2 linked regions of the Homo sapiens genome follow. The protein of the gene in region 1 purifies or fractionates together with the protein of each later gene. This does not show direct contact. Each region holds a gene or a part of one and is shown on either strand. Other genes may lie near its edges.

What was found. The genes of interacting proteins can lie anywhere in the genome.
Region 2: the proteins of TENT5C (region 1) and EEF1D purify together in Homo sapiens (affinity purification with mass spectrometry, with the first as the bait; 2 studies listed by BioGRID). This does not show direct contact.

Annotation. Positions count from the first base shown.
Region 1 is NC_000001.11:117,612,401-117,616,050, forward strand, and holds part of TENT5C (terminal nucleotidyltransferase 5C), read left to right. Parts: intron 1-3,650. UniProt on the Homo sapiens protein: Catalyzes the transfer of one adenosine molecule from an ATP to an mRNA poly(A) tail bearing a 3'-OH terminal group and enhances mRNA stability and gene expression.
Region 2 is NC_000008.11:143,590,837-143,594,486, forward strand, and holds part of EEF1D (elongation factor 1-delta), read right to left. Parts: exon of another isoform or gene 3,060-3,650; coding exon of another isoform or gene 3,057-3,059; exon of another isoform or gene 1,825-3,056; 5' UTR 1,811-1,824; exon of another isoform or gene 1,376-1,810; coding exon of another isoform or gene 1,253-1,375; exon of another isoform or gene 1-1,252.

The sequences.
Region 1 (3,650 bases):
CAAGGAACTGCTGATAAAATCTTCTGAGACTGGCAGGGGACCAGGACTCAGTTTATCAACAATTAAGTTTTATCAACAATTAAAATTTGAGTGAAATTGCAAGAGGAAGTAACATTCAAGTCAAGTCAAAGTGTTTGAGCTGTCTGGTGACAGCACATTAATTACTTGATGAACGCTAAACATGAGCTGCTGCTATGCGCAGTACCTGGAGGCCCGGAACCTGCAACTTGAATGCCAACTCCTAAGGGAAGGATCCATGCAAAACAAAAACCTGGATGGAACTATGCACGTAATTAGCATCTGCTCTGAAATGGAGGTCAGCTCACACTTAGACACTTGTGAATGGGGTGTGTTTATGGTCTAACGTATGATAAGGGTGGCATTTGAGGAACTAAGAGTTGCTTGTCCCTTTCCTGATAAGGCCTGGGCAGGGAAGCTGCTAGTGATTAGACAGGACTTTTAGCTGACTGAGGTCTTCCTTTTGGACAACTGTTTAAAGCTGTAGGCTGGAGAGTTAGATGGTAAAGTAGCCTGTGGAAGCAGCCTTTGATGAAACCCGGAGGCTGTCAGCTCTTAAACCCTGTGGATTACGTGTAAGCTGAGTCATTCTTACAGTAAGCAGTCTCCTCCTTAGGAATCATCTCATTTTTCTCAGTCTGGGCAATCTCTAAAACAGAAAGGCAGGCTCTCTTTGGGGAGCTCTTTAAATGAATTCAGACCAGTAACACCTCTGATCTAGAAAGAAGCAGTTGATGGTGGGAAGGTGGTTACCAAGTAGCAACAAGGATTATTTCCATTTCAAGTTGTGTGTGTAGCACTTAATGCTGACACCTTGGAAAAAAATCAAGGCTTTTATGCCCTGCTTCCATCTGAAGATGTCTGTGTCCTGACCTTGTTAATATTTCCATTTGCAACCACGTCAGAGTATACCTTTCAACACTTGAACTTGTGTGGCATCCCTGCTGTAATATCTAGGCCAGTGTTTTGATTCTGTTTGCTGTTTTGCGGCCACAGCATTAGTTCTTCCAGCGTTATCTCTCCACCCACACTTGCCCAAGCATCCTATTTTCAAAGGTGGGAAAGAGCTTTCTGTTTGGAGTTGTCGTTGGTGGGTGTCTATGGATGGAGCCCAGTGATAACCATTCAGACTGTGTGTTGGCTTCTCACTTCTTAGTGGGAAGTGAGAATTCATGGAGGCCCCTTAAACAGCGGAGATCACAGCCTGGTTCTGTGGCCTGCCTGGGTTTCAGTCCAGGGCTGCTTTCCACAGCTCATGTGGGAATCTAACCACATTTTTTGACTCTAGTAAACATCATTGGTAAATGGCTGGAGGATGATAATAACCTTAAGAAAATAGAATGAGACGCTGGCTGAATGCAATGGAGCTGAGAGTGAGAAAAGACCAACTGTGGGGTTTGTTGCGTCACTGACTTAGAAATGTTTTCTCTGGGCACAGCTTTGTGGCCTGGGGCAGTTACTTCTTTGAACTCAGGTAGAATGTGTTGCGGGCATTTAAGTGGGCAACTGTAAAAATAACATCTTGGAAAAATAGTGAGCATAGGATATATTTTATTGGCCTTTTAAAAAGTAAAGCATTATTTTATCTGTTTTTATTGCTTCAGGCCATTCATAATCTAAGCTGCTATTCCATGTACATGAAACACTCGAGTGTCTGTTATCTGTAACTTTCATGTGTTTGGGGCTGTGGAGGAGTCTCCAGAATGTGGCCCCCTCCCTATGTGGGGGGTCTGGCCCTAGGGAGGAGCTGGCAGACAAAAGCCTTCCTTAGACTGCCTCCAAACCCTTCCTAGATAACTTCTGGCCTTCATCCCCCAAGGAATTCAAGGAGTAAGAGAGGAGGATTTTTTTCAGAAGGCCATATCCATGTTGACCCTGGTTTTTCTCGTTTCTGCCCGGTTATCTGCTGCTGCACATGCCAAGCAAAATGACCAAGGTCCATGGTCATTCGAAGCGCCTGGCTCTTTTCTTATGGGTGAAAGAATCTCAAGGGTCAAACTACATGCAGGTGGGGGAAGTGACGGTGTCCAGTCTCAGGTTCAGCATTCATGAGGTCCTGTGTACGTTCCAGACTTTCTGCTTTCAGTTTTGTTCCAGCTCTCCTTCCTGGGCTGGCCCTTTAAGTCCTGGTCACTGCCTGCAAATTTATCAGCCATTTCTCTGTAGCTCCAGTTGGGTTATTGGCTTCTTTGATCTGAGAAGGTTGCCGTCTCGACTGTAGCTAGTGTCCTGTTCTGTTGCTTCATCAGCCTATCAACACTCTGATCTCCCAGCCATCAGAGGAGTCTCAGTAATTGTTCCTTTATTCCATGAGCAAAGCAGCATGCCTTAGTTTTCTGGATCAGGATCAGCCCATTCCTGATAATCTCCCTCCTGTGCCATTAATTTTTCCTCTTATTACTAGTTCAGCAAGGCGACTGTGCAGCACCTTCCACTCTTGGGTTCTCTCTCTCTTCTGGACTTGGTTTCTCTAAAATCACCACTGTTCTGCAACGTAGCAAGCATCTTGGAGCTCCCTGGGAAGTTAGGATCCTAGGCCTTCATCTCCCAGCCATTGTTCCTTTAAAACAAACAGTAGCATAACGATTAGCATTTCTACACTTAATCACATTCAGTTCTGGTGGCTCCAGCCTGCAGTTTCTATGCTGACAGTTGTTAGATACTTCAGTTCTAAATGCTTCTCCCTTGCTTTCAGAATTTGCCATCTGGCCTTACCTCACTCAGGTGGCCTTAGCGGTCTAGCCAAACTTCTTTCCTACCATCTTATTTTTTAAAAATCTTTATACCTTCCTTCCTTTTCTTTCTACTTACTGTCATCTCCTTCCTCTGACCATCTAAGCACAACCAGCTCTTCTTCAAGCTCCCTGCCCCACCAAAGCTATCCACCTTTTAGGAAGACTCTTAAATTCCATTTCTGCTACTCACCAGCAGTGCATCCTTGGACAGTTTACAATTTGCACATCCTCTTTGTTCTCCAGTTTTCCCATCTGTAAGTGGGGGAGTAGGAGGAATGGTATCTCTTTTATGGGTTGTTATAGAAATCAAATGATTGATCCAGGTAGAGCCCTGAAAGCACTGTTTTACTGCCTATTTGTGATGTTGTAAAAGAGTTGGTGGCTCATTAGGGTACCTGGCTAAACATCTAGTCACATGTGGTGTCCCCTGGCCATGGCTGTGGCTGCCGCCATGTGAAGAGCCCTTGGAGGGCTCTGCATGTATTAGCACCTGCCAGAGAAAAGGATGTGGGCAGAAGCAGACGTTTATGTTATGAAACAATGTGCTCCCCCGCTGATAAGTGGGATTTCCCACACACTATGGCAATATATTGTCTTCCTTGGTGTCTCTGTGGCAGGGGGCACCTCTAAGCCACCTGGCATCTTTTGCTTAACTGGAATCTGCACAAAAGCAGAGAGTAAAGGCTGATTCCAGCTTTTTGCTATCTTTGGTGTGTATGGTGGGGACGGGGCAATGGAAAGACTAGGTCTCACGGTTACATAGTGAACAGAAGGTTGCTGTGTCCTTTTTTGTTAGGACCAATAACGTCTGTTTTAGAAAAGATCACTTTAATGGCTATGAGAACTGGTGATCCCAGTGCACATGTGGGTTGTGACATGTGCTTGTCACTCCGTGTC
Region 2 (3,650 bases), on another chromosome or scaffold:
GCGGAGCTTGCAGTGAACCGAGATGGCGCCACTGCACTCCAGCCTGGACAACAGAGCAGGGGAAAAGAAAAAAAAAGAGGGAGCTTCTTTGTGGGCCTGACTGTCCTCCCCAGGAGGGGGCCAGGTGGCCGGGCAGAGGGTGGAGTGCCCACTCATGAAGGAGACGCCAGGGAGGATGCTGGTGACCACTGTGTAGAAAGGAGGGGCCAAGCGCCTGGAGCACTGAGACGGCTCTAGGCTCTCTATCAGCTGCCCCCGCCTCCCAGCTGGAGTCCATACCTTTGGGTCCATCCAAGCTAAAGGGGAATCATGGGGCTCTCACAGTCCCAGGACATCAGGGCCCCCTCTAAGGTTTTGCTTCTGTGTAATGTTAAGAGGGACCATCTTGGTGGGAGGCAGGTTGTGAGGCTCCACTCCCCACTTGCTACTGTGGCCTGGGAGCCTCAGCCTCCTCCCTGGATGAGGTGTTCCCTCAAGCTCTGGGCGACCTCAGTCACCTGCTGCCCCAGTGCTCCAGCAGCCATGTGGGATCCTGCCGGGGGCACGCTCTGCTCCCAGGTGTCCAGTGTGGTGTTACAGAAAGGACAGGCCCAGAAGGCCAGGGGCAAATCTGCTCTTGGGATGCAGGTCAGCACCCCAGCCCGCGCTCAGCCTGCGATAGCTTCCTCCCCAGCCATGCCCGACTCCAGGCTCTGCTCCCCAAAAGCAGAAACGCCTGGGCCTAACCAACGCCTAGGAGCACCCTCAAGAGGGGGCTGTGCAGCTGCCCCTCACAGACACCGCTGCTAGTCTGCTGCCTCCGCAGGTGTGTCTAGTGGAGCCTGAGGGCAGACAGACCCAGTGGCCCCAGGGCACCGTGACTGGGACCACCTGCCTGGTCTGCACCCAGAGGGAGGCAGCCTTCGGTCAAGAGCAGACCCTTCACACCAGTGGCTATGGGTCTTCGCCCCTCTTCTAACATCCTTACCCAACAAAACCAAGGCTGGCTCCAACGCCCCCCGTGGGGTGCTGAGCTGTCTACGCTCCACCCAGGCAGGGAGGACTTTTGGGAAGGCACCCCTGGCACTGCACTCTGCAGCCTCTAAGTGGAACATGGAGTTCTTTGCGGGCATGTGGCCCGAATCCCGCAGTCCCAGCAACAAGTTCTAATGGCACCAACGAGGAACCGGGGCCCATGGGAGGCCACAGGGCCCATGAAGACGCTCCCTAGGCTCCCCTGCTCATTCCTTCCCCAGGCTGGGGCAGCACTTACCAAGGCCAGGCTGATGGGCAGAGGCAGGGGTTGTGGGTTGGGGGTGGGGTGGGAGCAAGAGCCCAGGAGACAGGGCATTGTGACATCGTGCGGTGGTACCCCCACCAGTCTCTCTGCTCCCATGGAGCCGTGCAGGTCCCATCAGCAGTGCCACTGAGCTGGCCCCCAGTGTTGATGCCCTACCAGACTTTATTGGCCAAAGTGGCCTCAGACTATGTTCTTGGGGGCTCCGGGCAGAAGCCGCCGCTCAGGGAGGGGAAGCCACTTCAAGGCTCCTACCGAGACCTGGCACTGCCACCTGTTCCCTGCAGGGAGCCGCATGTCAGCTGCTGACCCGCCAGCCCAGGACAGGACCCTGCTCACGGCCACACAGGGTGCCCACCTGCTGCTGCCCCATCCAGAAAACCCAATTCCTCCACTTTCCAGATGGGAAACTGAGGCCCTCTGGGCAGACTGGGCCATGCGCAGGTGGTGCTGGGTTCCCTCAGGTGCAGCGAGGGCTGGGGGTTCCCCGGTCAAATGAAGGGGAATGGGGCATGAGGACAGGCGAGTACTTACTTTGCTTTGGCCTCCTAGGACAGCATGAAGGAAAAGCAGCAAGGTTAGAGGCAGCCAGAAAGACTAACCGGGTCAGACACAGCAGCAGGTCAGCCCGGGGCGGCCGGGGGCCTTTCCAGAAGCTGCTTGGCGAGGTGGTGTGGAGGTGACACTGGTGGAGATGGAAGCTGAGCGCCAGACAGACCCGCCGCCACCACAATCCCAGGTGGCAGCTGAGTCCACACAGGTGACGTCACTCCGTCATCCCCTGAAAGGGGAGCTCTTGGGATTACTGTCAGTTGGAGCCTAGGCAGGCCCTGGGGGACAAGCAGGGACCACTATCTGAGCCAACCTTTCCCAAATCCACCCACCCTGTCGTCACCTGAGCAAGGTAGCCTGAGACAAGATAAGCCAGCGCCCACAAGCATCCCCTGGAGCTGCCAAGGAGCTCCCCCAAGCCCCTCACCTGCACTGCCCCTGTGTCCGGTCTGCTGAAGGAGGCCCGGAAGATGACAAGGACCCTCAAGGGGGAGGCAGCCCAGGGCTCACATTAATACAGGGCCTCTCTCTCAGCAGGAGCCACCGTCAAGACAGGGCTGGCACCCAAGGGCCCCAGCACAAGCTACAAAGGCCTCCCAGACTGACTCTCCCACAATGTGCACACAAGGACAGGACCTCCACCCAGTTCACTCCTCGGCTGGAGACACTAGGTGTCCTGCCCCTAATCTCACCAGAGCCACCTCATAAACCCTGCAAGCTCTGCGAAGGGCAGCTGGGCACAGCTGAAAGCCCAGCCACCAGCCCATGTCCTGGGTGGGACTGGGCAGGAGGGGCCACCTCCTACTGCTGATCAACCCGAGAGCCCTGGCTGGGATCCGTCTTCCTTCACCAACGGGAGCTCCGGCCCCAGGGCCCTGCCCACCTCTGTGCACCCCACACTGCAGCAGGGAGCACCCTGCAGGGAGGAACTGGGCACCCTGCAGGGGTCTGGTGGAGACGAGGATGCTACGGAGGCAGCTGCCCCATGGGACCAGTAAGAGGGATCTTGGGTGGGCTTCCCTGCAGAGAGGAAGCCCTCAGGAGACACCACAGTAAGCCATGCTGGAGACCTGGAGGCCAGGCCCGTCACCTGGGGAGCTGGCCACTAACAGCGGGCAGAGAGCCTCCCAGGACAGCCAGCACAGCCCCCCACACGTCCGAGCCCACCTCCTCATTTCCCCGCTTCCCGCATTCCCAAGCATGGGAGGACCTGCCGGACGCAGCGCACCATCTCTCCTAACAGAGACCAAGTCTGAGCTTCAAAGCTTGCGCAGACGACAGGCACGTGCAAGCCTCTCCTCTCCAGCAGGAGAGCCCGGAGCAGGACACAGCGACTCTTTCAACTGCGTCCCGACAAACGGTCAGCCCCTTCGCTCCTGCAGTTTATCCAAGCTCAGGAGGAGCTTTCTAAAGAGAACACAGGGAGACAGCTGGCTGCCAGAGAAGCAGTCTTGGAAACGCCAGAGCCAGGCCCCAGGGGGAAGTGGCCAAAGTGTCCCTACTCTGCTCCTGGAAGCAGGCCAGGCTCACCACCAAGGCTCTTCCCTGAGGGGTAGACAGTGTCTGCCAAGCACCTGAGCCTCTGGCAGCTGCCCAGAGTTTGAGAGTGCCCTGGGGTCCTGGCTCTGGAAGGCTCCACCCAGCTAACAGGGCCTGTGACACAGGTGGCAGCCAGCAAGACCCACTGCAGCGGCATGGCCCTCACAGCCTCCCCTGTCCCTGTCCTGGGAGCAGCCCCGGCAGACTCCTACCCAGAACACTCCAGGTCAGGAGGGCAGGGCCCTGAGGAAGGTGAGGACATCCTGGAGAGCTGTGGCCACCA